Linked DNA regions of Homo sapiens. The protein of the gene in region 1 interacts with the protein of each later gene in a pairwise test. Each region holds a gene or a part of one and is shown in the gene's direction. Other genes may lie near its edges.

Region 1 (4,569 bases):
GACATAGTTTAGAAAAAATCATAAGCAACTATTGTAGATTTTTGATCTGTTTGGATTTATCTGTAGCATTGAATAATGTGCAGTGTACTGAGTTAATGTAGGCACCTCACTTTGGATTTATAAAATGTAAAAACCTGGAACATGCCTGCCACAGACACCACTTTGTCTATTCACCGGGTACTAATTTACATCCTATTAATGGTTGTAAAAGCTGAGTGTCTAAATGCTAGACATGTTCACAATTTTGTCTGTTTTTGTTTATTTGTTTTTAAGACCCAAACCTTTTCAATCTTGCATTTATTTACTTGGTTCTCCTGTGTCACCCTGTGGCTTTTTAAATAGGGAATGTAATTTATTTTAATAGTAGTTCTCAAAGACTCTATTAAAAACTCTGGACGAGGGATATGTGCAATCTGTTGGTAAGTCACATCCTATGTTTGGCCTCATTTTTATAACTCCTAAAATGAGAAAGGTAGATTTTAACACTTCTAAGGTACCTTTGAGCTTTAAAGTTCTTTTCTGCTTTTCCATATGATTTGTGTTAGTGTTCACTTTTTATATATTTAGAGTTTTTATATGAGTGTGAATGTTTCTGTTTTGATTTGGTGAGGCATGTCAGAGGTATATACTTGAATATTTTTCTAAATACAGCTGCTGGAGGAATGCAAATGGCAAAAATCATCCAGAAAACCAAACACGGTGAAACATCACATCCATTTGGCATGAAGCAAAGCATTACAAATTTGGAGTGATGAAAGTGTTCCATATATTTTTTATAGTGATTTTTCGATCTAGAGACCCTTCATATTGTTTACTTACTATTACGATAACTTTGAGAGGTAACCAGAGAAAGCATTTTTGCCATTTCCAGATGAGGAAGCAGGACCAGAAAGCTCTTCATAAAGCTTTAACACCATACAAGTATCCAGCAGTGATCAATTGCTCTTTATAGGAAACCACCTTTCCTCTGGGGAAGAACAGTCTGAATTAATAAAACATCAGAGTGGTTGAGTAGTAAAAATAAACACAGATGTATTGCTTTCAAGTCTTAGAGTGACATAAAGTAGTCTTAAATAAATAGTTCTTAGTTTATTTTAAGCAGTTGATTGTACTAACGAGATGTAATTATCTGAAGTATTTATGATTAGCATATTGGTTTTTATAAGTATTTCTGAGTTATTGAGGGTGCTTAAAAATGCTGAAGAAACTTTAAAACATGATTCTTCTTATAATTTTATGTGATTCTTATAGCACAATCATTTTTGAAAAAGGAAAACTAGGCTGGGTGTAGTGGCTCATGCCTATAATCCCAGCACTTTGGGAGGCCAAAGTGGGTGGATCACCCGAGTTCAGGAGTTCGAGACCAGTCTGGCCAACATGGTGAAACCTCGTCTCTACTAAAAATACCAAAATTATCCGGTGTGGTGACAGGCTGCTTGTAATCCCAGCTACTCGGGAGGCTGAGGCACGGGAATCTCTTGAACCTGGGAGGCAGAGATTGCAATAAGCCAAGATCATGCCACTGCATGCCAGCCTGGGTGACAGCACAAGACTGTCTCAAAAAAAAACAAAAAAAGGAAAAAGAAAACTAGCCCCAGTCCCTGTCTAAATTGTTATAGTTTTTGACTATTATCTGAATTAGTCTTATCCAAATTTCATATGCAGATTGATTTTTCATTTTGTATGTATATTACATGATATAACTATTTTCATAGAATATATTTCTAATTTACAAACACTGAATTATTAGCTTGATAGAGTTTCTCCCAAACCTTATAAAACTTTGAAATGTACTTATGTTTGAGCTTTAAAAATTATAAAAACTTCATTTAAACAAGTTGCTGGCATCATTACTAGCCTTTCCACCTATAATTATGATGCATTTGATGCCACTGAACAGTAATAGCACAAAGAACAGGTCACACAGTCTAGACTGGATTGAGTTTTAATTAAACTTCTTCATCCATAGCCTGATAAGAATCAGGCTGGGTCTAGAAGAGTTATCAGACTGTAGGCCTGTATTAATTTTGCAAGCTAATGTTAATGTTTACTGCCAGCCTTGCATAGCAATGCCAGTTTGCAGTTGTGACTATGATGTGACTTTTGGTAAAAATGGTTTATATCTAAAGTAGTTTAGATTTTATGGAAGTGGCTCTTGATTGTTTGGACAAGCAGGGTAGGTAAATTTCAATTACGTTTGAAGTGTAATTAAATCCTAGAATAGAGCACTCTCCAGAAAAAAAAATGAAAAAAGAATTTGGAGAATATCCTGGCATGAAAACTTTTTTGAATAATACGTAGAATTTTGACAAGGTTCATACAGTGCATACAGTGTGACCTTTTCTGAGGTGGGCAGGGAGGGTTGCTACGTTGTGTTGATTTAAAATTTCAAGGAGGAACAAAAACATTCTAGCCAAGGAGAATTGCATTGTTATTTTTTTTTCTACTAATTTAAACGTGCATTTTTCACAGTTACACATTTAAGTTTTGCTACCAAAAATGGCCATTTTTCTAGACAGATAACATTTTCCTAAAGTGGAAGAGAGATCCACTGTTCTAAAAAAAAAAAAAAAAAAAAACACTAAATTGTGCCTTCTCCCTTAAATTATAAGAAGAGTAATAGTAAAAACTTGTTTAAACTATATTTTCTTTTTTTCTAATCCCTCTCAGTTCTCCTTAGATCTGCCTCCTACAAATGATCATGTTGTTTGCATCTGCCTGATTGAGTTCCCTTGGTCAAACCTCTCCCTATCACTATCAGAAGTTGTTCACTAAATGTATTTTCCTATTTCTTTCATGTTGATTGACTTTATAAGTCACCTTGGTAAACATAACATTTGGCTACCTTCTCATGCTTTATAAATGAATTTGATGAATGGCAGTTTTTATATTTTAACCCTTTAAAAAGTTTGTCAAGGAAACAACTCAGAGCTAAGAACAAAATCTAACTTGGAATCAGTTTCTTCCTTTGGCTGCTGAAGCAGCAGCAAGTCACGTAACCTCATTTAGTTTTTTGATTTACAAAATGTGGATAATAACCTACCTCACAGATGTGTGTGAGCAACTGTTTGAAAGCCCTTGTTTAAATACAGGGTTTATATCCCCACATTCAATGTAAATTCCTTTTTTTAAAAAAAATAAGTATCTTTGATACTGATAGGATGAGTATCTTGATTTTTAGGTAAGATCACAGTTTCACAAATTGTGGTGTTGTTAGGTGACATTTAATATTTCTTGAGACCTCAAGTATTCAAATATCAAACTTGTCCTGTGTTGTAACAAATATTCAGAATCTCTTAAAATGTTGGCTGAAGCTGCCTTAATGTACCAAAATACAGCTCTCAAGACTGTTCACAAATATCTGTGGTTGTACAATGTTTTGAACATTTAATGTAAAGTTGTTGTAGAACTGTGAACTCTAAGGATAGTATCTTTATTGTTTTAGGAAGAATGGTTGTGTTCTTTGTCATGTATGCTTAAATATACAGTGGATTTTGAATGCAACAAATAAAACTGAAAACAGCCATTTGGTTGTGTCATGACAATCATAATATAGGATATAATATTTACTTTTTTTCAAAAACATCCTGCATTCATTCATTCTTAGCATACCTTTGAAAAAGAAAAAAAAATCCATAGGTTGATACATTGACCCATTGAAGTACTTCATTACGTATTTATTGAAAATTTTTTTTAATTGTTGAAATTGGGACCACTTTTTATAATTGGTTTCAAGAAAAAAAAATGAACAGACTTCCAGTGCTTTTCTGTTCAAATAAACTCCGATTCAAATTTCAGTTTTGTTTGTTATATACTTTTTGTGAGTGTTAAATGATATGGGAAGGATTTGTCTTTCATTAACCATATGGAAAAGATGTCTTCCTGAATTACATAGCATTTCATAGTTACAGATTCTTCCTAATTAATGTTTGCACCATATGAAACTCATAGGTAACAAACACAAAGGAGAAAAGCAGCCTGTCTGATTGCTTATAAGCTTTTTTCACAAAATCAAATTAAAAGTCTCTGATTCATTTGAAAGCTATTTTTGTTTCTGCTCCATCATTATGCTGGTATTCTGCACACCAACTAATAGTTACAGGAAAGTTGTTAGTGGAAAAGATTGCCTATACTCATTGGTGATTTCACACCATCTTTTTTCATTTTTGTCATCTTAGTTGTACATTATAGTTTTTAACTTGAGTTATTGCATTGGTTTTCTACTGTTGCTGTAACAAATTACTACAAACTTAACGACTTAAAATACAAATTATTTTATTGTTCTATATGTTAGAAACCCAGCAGGCTTAGCTGGTTTTTCTGCCTCAAGTCACACAAGCTGAAAACCAAAGCATTGATAGGGCTGGGCTGTGGAGGAGAATCTGTTTCCAGTTGCATTGAGTTGTTGGCAGAATTTCATTCCATGGTGCTGTAGGATTGAGGTCCCTGTTGCCTTTTTGGCTGTTGGCTAGGAATCATTTAAAGCTTCTAGAGGCCATCATCCCTTGGCCCTTGGCTCCCTTCATCTTCAAAACCAGCAACAAGTGGCTTATGGGTTGGATCTCTTCT
Region 2 (3,263 bases), on another chromosome or scaffold:
GGAAGTAAGAACAGGCACGGCACGCTCTGCTGAAAGTAGACTGCGGCCAGGCTTTTGAAGGCCTTGAAGGATGTGTTAGGGATTTGGAAGCCACTGGAAAGATGAGCAGGGGTGGAGAGTGATTTAGGAATGTTGTTGTCATGCTGCCCAAAGCAAAGTAGATGAAGATTCGAGGTAGAAGCACACTTCTGCACAGGTGGCCCTAAGATGGTGATGGTGGAGTGGAAGGAGCAGATGAGCCAAGAGGACAGGAAATGAGGTCGGTGTAAAGGGCAGGGACAGGCCAGGGGTGCACAGGGATGAGTCTGGATTTGGCTGCCTTGAGGGCTGTCTACAGTAAGCATACTTAAGCGGATGTGCTAGAACTAATGTCATTATTTATTTGCCACAACCTAAAGAGACAGGCAAGTATTAGTCGCCCGTCACAGAGAAGGTCCAGGGTGTCCAGGGCCCACTGTGGAAAGCTCTGCCTGGCTTGCCCCTGCTCCGCCGGCCGTTACCCGCTACCCACTCATACTGTCGTCCAAAAACTGGGCAGTGAAAAGTCACAGGTCAGATACAAATTGGACAGATTTGGTGTGAACATTTACAAGCTCATCCCGTACGCTATGTTTCAGTGGTCACCTAAATATTCTCATTTCAGGACTTTTTAAAACACATTTTCCCAAATCTAACTTGGGACAAAATCTAACTTGGGACATTTAAATAGGTTATCAATAATTATCTGTTTATGGCCTCTTTCGGCACACAAATAAGCATCTCCCTGTACAAAATTCTAGTGTATGCTGAGCTGATTGATTGCCTTCTGCATACACCTTTTCTACAACTTCTCAAACGTGTGTGACATGCTGGTAAGATGGCAGGAAAAGGAGTGACTGAATAATACAATATAGCTGAGATGTGTTTCAAGAAAACCTCTGGGCCAGGGTAGGGGTTTGTGAGCGGGAGCCAAGGACTTGCCCCATGTTTCTAATCAAGGTGAGACCACTGACACATGTGGTCAGCAAATATGTTCTATACACACATCCGCACACTGTCATCTAACCCATCCGTTCTCCCATCCACAGCATCTCCAGGACAAAGCCATCGCAACTAGGGAGGGGTTGACACCTGCTCTCCTAACATGTTTTCTTTCTGTTTCAGGCTTGAAAAACCCTTGCCCAGTTTTGATCCCTTCAAGACTTTGTCACAGCCTCTATCACACATCTGTTTTTCTCGAAGAAAAAAATATAATTAATAAAAATGTTTTACTCTTTTACACTGTATAATTGTAAGAAATAGCGTATTATTTGTGAATGCATGGTCTGAAATTTCTGTACAGTTTGGAGATATTTTCAAACGAAACGTAAGAGAAGTCAACAATAAAACCAAGAAAAGTGAGTATTTTTATACCAAACATTTTAAGTATGCTGGGATGGACGATCTTACACTGGTTTGGATCACAGTTTTTGTTCTTGACTTTTGAATGCTTGTAATTAAAAATATCTATTTTTTTCCTCTGAAGTAAGTTGCATGTTTGAGGCATGTTTCCAAATATTATCAAAATATCCTGAATTGTATTGTGAATATATAGAAATCTGTGCCTGGCCGGAGTCCAGGGTAAATTAGTAGCATGGTGTTAGATGTTAGAAACAGAACTGTTATTTGCAGTGTTAGGTCTAGGATCCCAGTTCTAGTAGGACAGCCCTGCAAGACAATCAACCAGAAGCCTCCAGGAGCTTCTACCTATGGCTTATTCACAACTGGGCAAGAAAACATCATTGGTAAGAACTGCTGAGTGTGCCCTTAGAAAGCCCTAGTAGCTCCAGCTGTGACTATATCAACTGTGTGCCAAGTGTGACTTTGTACAGTTTTATGTTTCCACTCTCCTGTATGTGTAGCCACTCGATGCCTAACCTACCTTCCACAAGCCAGCCCCGCATCCCTGCTCCCGCAGTGTAAGTGCAGAGCCTGCCTCACTGGTAAGGGAAAACCTTGGCTTGGGAGGCCAGCCCTGGCCCTTGAAGGGGTTGGCTGTGCCCAGCCCACCTGGCTGCAGTGGGCAGCTCATGTCTGTATCTCCAAAGTGATGTTTGTTTGCAAAACACCGGCTGAACTGAGCTGGTGTTGCCAACTCTTGGCAGCACTGGGCCAAACCGACCACATACCATGAGCTCCCAAATGGCGTGTGCTCACTGTGAGACGTCCTGCCACACCCCACAGGAGACGGAGGCAGTGGGCATTTGGAACCAATTCTATTCAGACTTCGTCAAAGCCAAAGTCAGTCTGGTGTTGTCAGTTGACACATCTCCAGAGTTCATGACAGCTCAACCTCTCCCCTTGTACAGAAGCCATTTTTGTAAAACCACACTGACCTAAATTCAGCTGCCAAACACAGTCTTTCCTATTGATCCGCTCGGCTTATGTTGAAAATTTCAATGTCATGATTACCTGGTTGGTTTGGGTTTTTGTTTTGTTATTTTCCATTAGAAATATAAAGATGTCAAGAAGCTTTTAAAGGTCAACACAAAAAACCAAGGCCAGGAGTGAGGGGCTCTTTCTTACCGTAAATAAGGGGAAAAGGCAGTTAGCTCAAGGACTTGTGACGGATCCACTTTGGTGTTCAAGGACCTGCTTATGCCCTCAGTGCCAATCGGCTCTTGGTGAGATGACTGTACTCCTAAGGAAAATAGCCACTTCTGCAGTCTATTATGCTTTTATAACTGTTTAAAGGTACTTTTCTATTGTCATTTTTAAAAAATAAAGTGCTTATTCCAGCTGTCACACCATTGCTTGACAAATTCTTTTTTAGCAAGACCAACTACATGTATCCCACACTGCAGACAAGACGCCAGCAGATTTCATTCCCATTGTCAGGCTTCGGCAGAGCTAAGCAAGCATTGGCCATTGAGCTTAGGCACAAAGAGATTAAAGGAGGAAGCAGATACCGGGGAAAGCCAGAGAGTAAGTCTGCAAACGCACAACCACAGTGGCTGGTGACCCACAATGACACCAGAGGCAGAGGGACCTCAAGGGAGGCCCCTCATCTACCTCAGCCTACAAAGCTTGACTCAGGATTATCTGAATTATATTAAAATGTCACTTGGGTTTTCTGCTGACTTAAATATATCTTACGCCAGGCATGGTGGCTCACACCTGTAATCCCAACACTGGGAAACTGAGGCAGGAGGCTTGCTTGATCCCAGGAGTTTGAGACCAGCCTGGACAACACAGCAAGACCCTCAATTTTAACATTAGCCAGGAGTACTAGCACCTGTGGTCCT
Region 3 (7,047 bases), on another chromosome or scaffold:
ACCACCCTGCCCGGCTATGAAAATTCTGACATTCTTTTATGTCAGTGAACACCTAACTTAGTATCTAGTTGACTCAAGATGAGAGTTCTCAATGCTATAATTTGAATGTCTTTGAAAATTCCACTAGTATTATACAAGCTTTTTCTTTTTCTATACTCAGAGAGTTACTAATGCAATAAGCTTTGTCAAATGACGTCGTAGTGTAGTCCAAATTCATTGTATAAGGACTTATCACAGTACATGGATTTGTAATCATGTGTCCTCAGAGCATCCTCGGAACTTAGTAAGGTGTGTTTTCCAGTTTTACAGATAAATAAGCCTAAGCTGAGAGAATTAGGTAATTACTTAGGTCAGTAACTTAAATACATTATGAATCACGAGTTATTTTGATATCAAGACCTCTTTCTAGCAATGCTGCCATATTGTACTCATCATGTTCATTTCAGTATGGTTCTCATCTATATTGAACTGTAGATTCTGTGTTAGCATTTATTACCTCTGCTCCAGTATTGATTCTTTTATGTTAGGTTTGGCAGTAAGGGCCTTAGAAATTCCTCACAGTGAATTTTTAAGATCTGGAAGAGACTAGTTTGAAATATTCATTTTAATATGTACCACAGAGGTAATGGATTCTAATTATCTGGTTATTGAAGTTTGTCAAAAGAAAAATTGTACTTCCACTGAAGAAAAAAATAGCTAGTCTTTGCACTCTGAATAACTTTGTTTCATTAGGGTTTTTTGGTCAATTTTTCTTTAAGAGACAGGGTCTTACTCTGTTGCCCACACTCAAGGGATCCTCCTGCCTGAGCCCTCCACAATAGCTGGGACTACAGGTTTGCACCACCATGCCCAGCTAATTTTTTCAAAAACTTTTTGTGGAGATGGGGTCTTGCTGTGTTGCCCAAGCTGGTCTTGAACTCCTGGCCTCAAGCAATCTTCCTGTCTCAGCCTCCCAAAGTGTTGGGATTACAGGCATGTGCCACTGTGCCCAGCCTGTCAGTTTTAAATATGGAAAAATTATAACTTATAAAATTAGTGTATATTTAGATATTTCTTTCCGTACACATTTTGTCAGTGTGACTACTGGTAACAAATGTCAAAACTCTTGTGAGATAATTTCTAGTTCTTTGGTTTGTTTGCTGCTGATTTGGAAAGTGATGTCAGATCTTAATTTATATGTGGCTGTTGCTCATGTTTTGCTTACCTCTGCTGCAAAGGGCAGGGTCCATGTGACTGCCTGGCCACAATCGTTTTCTATGTGTTTAGCCCTTAAGAGTGCTGAGAATGTTTGTTGAGTAACAGCTTCCCTCCAGAGTGGTCAGTTCTCACATCACATGAGGTAGTTAATGAAGCCTCTTACTTTCCAGCTTCTGTAAGAAAAGTAGTCAGATATCATGGTCCAAGGAATGGCCTTATGCATACCTGGAGTCCTTATACCTATCCCATTTTAATTATATTGGCTTTAAAATCTTCAAGGTAAAAAGAGGCAATTTGAACCCCTTCTTTGTTGCCCTGAAAAATTCCAAGGAAAATTTCTTTGTCACAAGCTGAGCTAGGCATAATGAAAGCACTCTGGAAAAAGGAGGTAGAGAGTACTAAGAGATATCCAGCAATTATTGCTAAGTGGTAGGATTGGCATCGGGCACGTTATGTATATTTTTTATCTTTTCCTCTTAATAGCTAAATATGAGATATTCCCCCTATTTTAAAGATGAAGACTTTGAAATGCAGGGTAAGTGGTGATAGTAGGATATGAAGGCAAGATTGGGCTGGGCACAGTGGCTCATGCCTGTAATCCCAGCACTTTGGGAGACTGAGGTGGGTAGGTCACCGAGACCAGCCTGGCCAACAAGATGAAACCCTGTCTGTACTAAAAACAAAAATTAGCCAGGTGTGGTGGTGGGTGCCTGTAATCCCAGCTACTTGGGAGGCTGAGGCAGGAGAATCGCTTGAATCCAGGAGGTGGAGGTTGCAGTGAGCCAAGGTCACGCCCTTGCACTCCAGCCTGGGTGACAGAGTGAAACTCCGTATCAAAAAACAAAACAAAACAAAAATTAGCCAGGTGTGGTGGCACATGCCTATAATCCCAGCTACTTGGGAAGCTGAGACAGGAGAATCGCTTGAACCTGGGAGGTGAAGATAGTGGTAAGCCAAGCTCACGCCACTGCACTGCAGCCTGAGCGACTGAGCGAGACCTTGTCGCAAAAAAAAAAAAAAAAATTGGGAGGCCAAGGCGGGCAGATCACGAGGTCAGGAGATCGAGACCATTCTAGCTAACACGGTGAAACCCCGTCTCTACTAAAAATACAAAAAATTAGCCAGGTGCAGTGGCGGGCGCCTGTAGTCCCAGGTACTCGGGAGGCTGAGGCAGGAGAATGGCCTGAACCCGGGAGGCAGAGCTTGCAGTGAGCCAAGATCGCACCACTGCACTCCAGCCTGGGCGACAGAGCGAGACTCTGTCTCAAAAAAAAAAAAAAAGTCTTTCCTGGAATTCTCCAACACTTGAGCGCTTATCTTCAGTATAATTGCGTTATATTACTTAGTCAATTCAGTGCTTATTGATTTGAGATAACTGTTTGCTACTTGTTTGTAGGAGACGCACATTGATTGGGAAAGGGGGAGTGAGTGAGGTTTCTCTTTCAACTGAAGACCCTACCATAAGGTCAGGTGTATGTTAGATTTTCCTCTGCTGCCTTTTCAGTGCTGTGTTCATATGGTGTTCCTTTTCTTTTTTTCTTTTTCGTTTTGAGACAGAGTATCACTCTGTTGCCCAGGCTGGAGTGCAATGGCGTAATCTCAGCTCACCACAACCTCCGCCTCCGGGGTTCAAGCGATTCTCCTGCCTCAGCCTTCCTTGTAGCTGGGACCACAGGCGCGTGCCATCATGCCTGGCTAATTTTTGTATTTTTAGCGTAGATGGGGTTTCTCCACGTTGGTCTGGCTGGTCTCGAACTCTTGCCCTCGTGATCTGCCCACCTTGGCCTCCCAAACCAAAGTGCCTGGATTACAGGCGTGAGCCACCACGCCTGGCCTGGTGTTCCTTTTCTTTTCATCTTTACTTAACAGCTTTCCCCAAGGACACAGAAAAAAATAATAGAAAGTAATACTGTTTTCTTTTGGGAAAGAGGGTAGTATTGAACATGTATTTTTGAAGCAGTTAGCATGTGGAAGTAAAAGGTACTTGTCAGTGATGGCAGTCACTTAGTAACCTAGTTGTTGTAGTTAGGATTTTTGTTGGTTGTAGTTGATGAAAACCCACTTGAAATTAGCTTAAGCCAAAAGAGATAATTTACTGGACTCCAAAGAAAGGTGCAGGAAGGGCAGGGGTATAATGTAGCTTGGTTTATGACCGTATAGAGCCTGTCAGTCCGACTTAATCAGACTCTCCCTCTCTTTTTTTGCCTTTTCAGGCTTGTCTGCTTCACTCCTCCTTTCTGCAGACCTATATTTCCACCTGGCTAGCCTCTGAATGTCACATTAATTAGACTTTCTTCATATTGTCTGCTCCTAAGTTTGAAAATCTGGAGAAGGGATTCTTTAGGTATCCAGACGACAAGGTAATACAACAATGTGGGCCTGGTATGGTAGCTCACACCTGTAATCCTAGCACTTTGAGAGGCCGAGGCAGGTGGACTGCTTGAGCCCGGGAGTTCAAGACCAGCCTAGGCAACATAGTGAAAACCGGTCTCTACCAAAAGAAAAAAAAAAATAGCTGAGCATGGTGGCACATGTCTGTGGTTCCAGCTACTTGAGAGGCTGAGATAGGAGGATCACTTGAGCCCAGGAGGTTGTGGCTGCAGTGAGCCGTTATCATGCCACTGCATTCCAGCCTCTGGGTGACAGAATGAGACCCCATCTCAAAAAAAACAGCAAGGAAATCATAAGGAAGAGAAAATATAGTTCTATACTATAGTTATCAATACCATAAGTTTATGTCAGCTGTTTACAAAACGAATCATCTGTCAGAAATGATGGGCAACCACAGCTGTAGACCTCAATCTAACGTAACCCATCAAGCAATTAAAAAAGAATGTGGGAAGTCCCACAGAATCATATGGATTGCCTAGGAAGTACACAGAGGTGGGACTGCTTTATTGTGAATTTCTTTGAATTACCAGAGAAACATGTTTATGGACTTACTACCCTTTTCTTTTTGAGACAGTATCTTCCTCTGTCCCACAGACTAGAGTGCAGTGGCGTAATCACGGCTCACCGTAGCCTCAACCTCCTGAGCTTCTGATCCTCCTACCAGTCCCTCCTGTAGCTGGGACTACAGGTGTGCACCACTACACCCAGCTAATTTTTCTATTTTTTGTAGAGATGGGGTCTCACTATGTTGCCTATGCTGGTCTCAAGCAGCCCTCCCACCTCGGCCTCACAGAGCGCTGGGATTATAGGCATGAACCTCCGTGCCCAGCCTATTACTTTTTTTTTTTTTGAGATGGAGTCTCACTCTGTCACCCAGGCTGGAGTGCAGTGGCGCAATCTCGGCTCACCACAACCTCTGCCTCCCAGGTTCAAGCGATTCTCCTGCCTCAGCCTCCCGAGTAGCTGGGACTACAGGTGGGCGCCACCATGTCTGGCTAATTTTTGTATTTTTTGTAGACATGAAGTTTCACTATGTTGGCCAGGCTGGTCTCAAACTCCTGACCTCGTGATCTGCCTGCCTCGGCCTCCCAAAGTGCTGGGATTATAGACGTGAGCCTCCGCTCCTGGCCTCAGCCTAGTGCTTTTAATGGCTGTGATTCTACCAAGAACAGTATTTAAAGAGAGACTAGTTTTAATATGTGTAAACTGTAAAAGTTGTTTTAAAAATGAGAAGCACCACCAAGATAGGTTTTCTGTAAAATCTTCAGTTTATAAAAAATGCAATTTAGCTGGGCATGGTGGCTCATGCCTATAATTCCAGCACTTTGGGTGAGTGAGGGAGGAAGATTGCTTGAGCCCAGGAGTTTGAGACCAGCCTGGGCAAGATATCAAGACCCCACCTCTACAAAAAATAAAAGTTAGCTGGATGTGGTGCCGTGTGACTGTATTTCCAGCTACTCAGGAGGCTGAGGTGGCAGGATTGCTGGAGCCCAGGATATTGAGGCTGCAGTGAGCTATGATTGCACCACTCCACTCCAGCCTGGGCAACAGAGCAAAACCCTGTCTCAAAAGTAATTAAGATGAAAATTTTTTTAAAATGCAATTCAGTCTAGACCCAACTATATTGTCAACTTCTTGATGGCAGGTACTTCCATCACTTCTATTGTCTTTTGTAGTACTTAACGAGGGCTATATCGAGTATGTACCAGTACCAGGCACCATTCTAAGCACTGTGATGTTTCAACTAGTTTAATTTTCACAAACTCTTTTGTTTTTGGTGCCATCAAATTTACATAAGCAGACAATAACTTTCATTTTAGAGATGAGAAAACTGAGGCAGATAATTGGGAAAGCCGGGCTTATGTGTCTCATATGTGGTCAAACTGAGATTTGAACGTTGGCAGTCGAGCTCTATAACGAGTTTGCTGTGTGTCTGATAAGAACATAGTAGGAAATGTACTTAAAATACGAAATTTGATTGCTCTGGTGCCAAATAACCTAGAGGAGATGGTGTGTTTTTGTTGAGCTCAGTAATAATCTGAAACTATAATGAGATTTAACTCCTAAATTGGCAGACTGGTTAGAGATTGGACTCTACATGGGGATGTTTTAAGGGAGCTGGGAGAGCCATGAGGACCTGCTCTCACTGTTTGAGAACTTTTTATTTTTTTGGTGTTCAATTAAGAATTTATTCCGTCATCACAGAGTTTGAAGTTTAATTATGGAGCTACATAAATATCCATACTAGAAGAAAGTGATTGAAATCATCAGCGACACACACAGATAGAAAAAAGGTGTTAGAATGAAGTAACCTGAAATAGCATCTCATCCCTGCTTCTTAGAGTGTATCCATAAGCCAGCAACTTTGGCTTTACCTGGGTGGAATCTCAAGCCGTACTCCAAACCTCCTGAATCAGAACCTTTGTTTTTTTTGTTTTTTTTGTTTTTTTTTGAGATGGAGTTTCACTCTTGTTGCCCAGGCTGGAGTGCAATGGCACGATCTCAGCTCACTGCAACCTCTGCCGCCCTGGTCCAAGCAATTCTCCTGCCTCGTCTTCTCAAAGTGCTGGGCTTACAGGTGTGAGCCACCATGCCCGGCCTTTTAGAATCTGTATTTTAACCAGGTGATTTGTATTTTCATTAAAACCTAGAGCCTTATTGCTTATTGATTTAATACCACTTGCTTTAATAGTATCAAAACATGTTCATTAGAGAAATTAGGTTAATCATAACTGCTTGTGCATACTAGCTTTCTTCATCATGTACATTCTTTTCCCAAAATACCTGTATAATTTGTGGGTACTAGAAAATGCTCATGTGTTCAGAATGTATTTTTTGCTCAGTCCAAGTCTCCAGGTTAAAATTCATCCATTATTTTAAGCCCCCAGTCATTTCTTTTCTTTCTTTCTTTCTTTTTTTTTTTTTTTTTTTTGAGGCTGTCTTGCTCTCTTGCCCAGGCTAGAGTGCAGTAGCACGATCTCAGCTCACTGCAACCTCCGCCTTCCAGGTTCAAGCAATTCTTGTACCTCAGCCACCTGAGTAGCTGGGATTACAGGCATGTGCCACCATGCCTGGCTAATTTTTGTACTTTTAGTTGAGATGGTGTTTCACCATATTGGCCAGGCTGGTCTTAAACTCCTGGCCTTGAGTGATCTGCCTGCCTCAGCCTCCCAAAGTGCTGGGATTACAGGCATGAGCCACTGCGCCCAGCCTACCCAGTCATTTCTTGTGACCTATTGTTGTTCCCAGGCATATGTTAAGACTTAGAGGAAAGTTTGATTACTATTTAAAAAATAAAAAGTATCTGAAATCCTGTAATTGAAAGGCACGAATCTTGTCTTTAAGATTGTTGCTTCTTTCCTACAAAAATAGAAGTGGGGAAAAGGCAAACAGCAAGGCATTGCTGGAAGTGCTGTTTTCTACTTTTGTCTTCACCTGTGTTTTATACTGAGTATGATT

Evidence for each region. Proteins that work in one complex are often made in the same cells at the same time.
Region 2: the proteins of PRKAA2 (region 1) and RBPMS interact in binary tests that used the Homo sapiens proteins (3 or more experiments, as listed by UniProt).
Region 3: the proteins of PRKAA2 (region 1) and NRBF2 interact in binary tests that used the Homo sapiens proteins (3 or more experiments, as listed by UniProt).

What each region holds. Positions count from the first base shown.
Region 1 is NC_000001.11:56,711,291-56,715,859, forward strand, and holds the end of PRKAA2 (5'-AMP-activated protein kinase catalytic subunit alpha-2), read left to right. Parts: 3' UTR 1-4,045; downstream 4,046-4,569. UniProt on the Homo sapiens protein: Catalytic subunit of AMP-activated protein kinase (AMPK), an energy sensor protein kinase that plays a key role in regulating cellular energy metabolism.
Region 2 is NC_000008.11:30,569,494-30,572,756, forward strand, and holds the end of RBPMS (RNA-binding protein with multiple splicing), read left to right. Parts: intron 1-1,143; coding exon of another isoform or gene 1,144-1,237; 3' UTR 1,238-2,763; downstream 2,764-3,263.
Region 3 is NC_000010.11:63,136,281-63,143,327, forward strand, and holds part of NRBF2 (nuclear receptor-binding factor 2), read left to right. Parts: intron 1-7,047. UniProt on the Homo sapiens protein: May modulate transcriptional activation by target nuclear receptors. Can act as transcriptional activator (in vitro). Involved in starvation-induced autophagy probably by its association with PI3K complex I (PI3KC3-C1).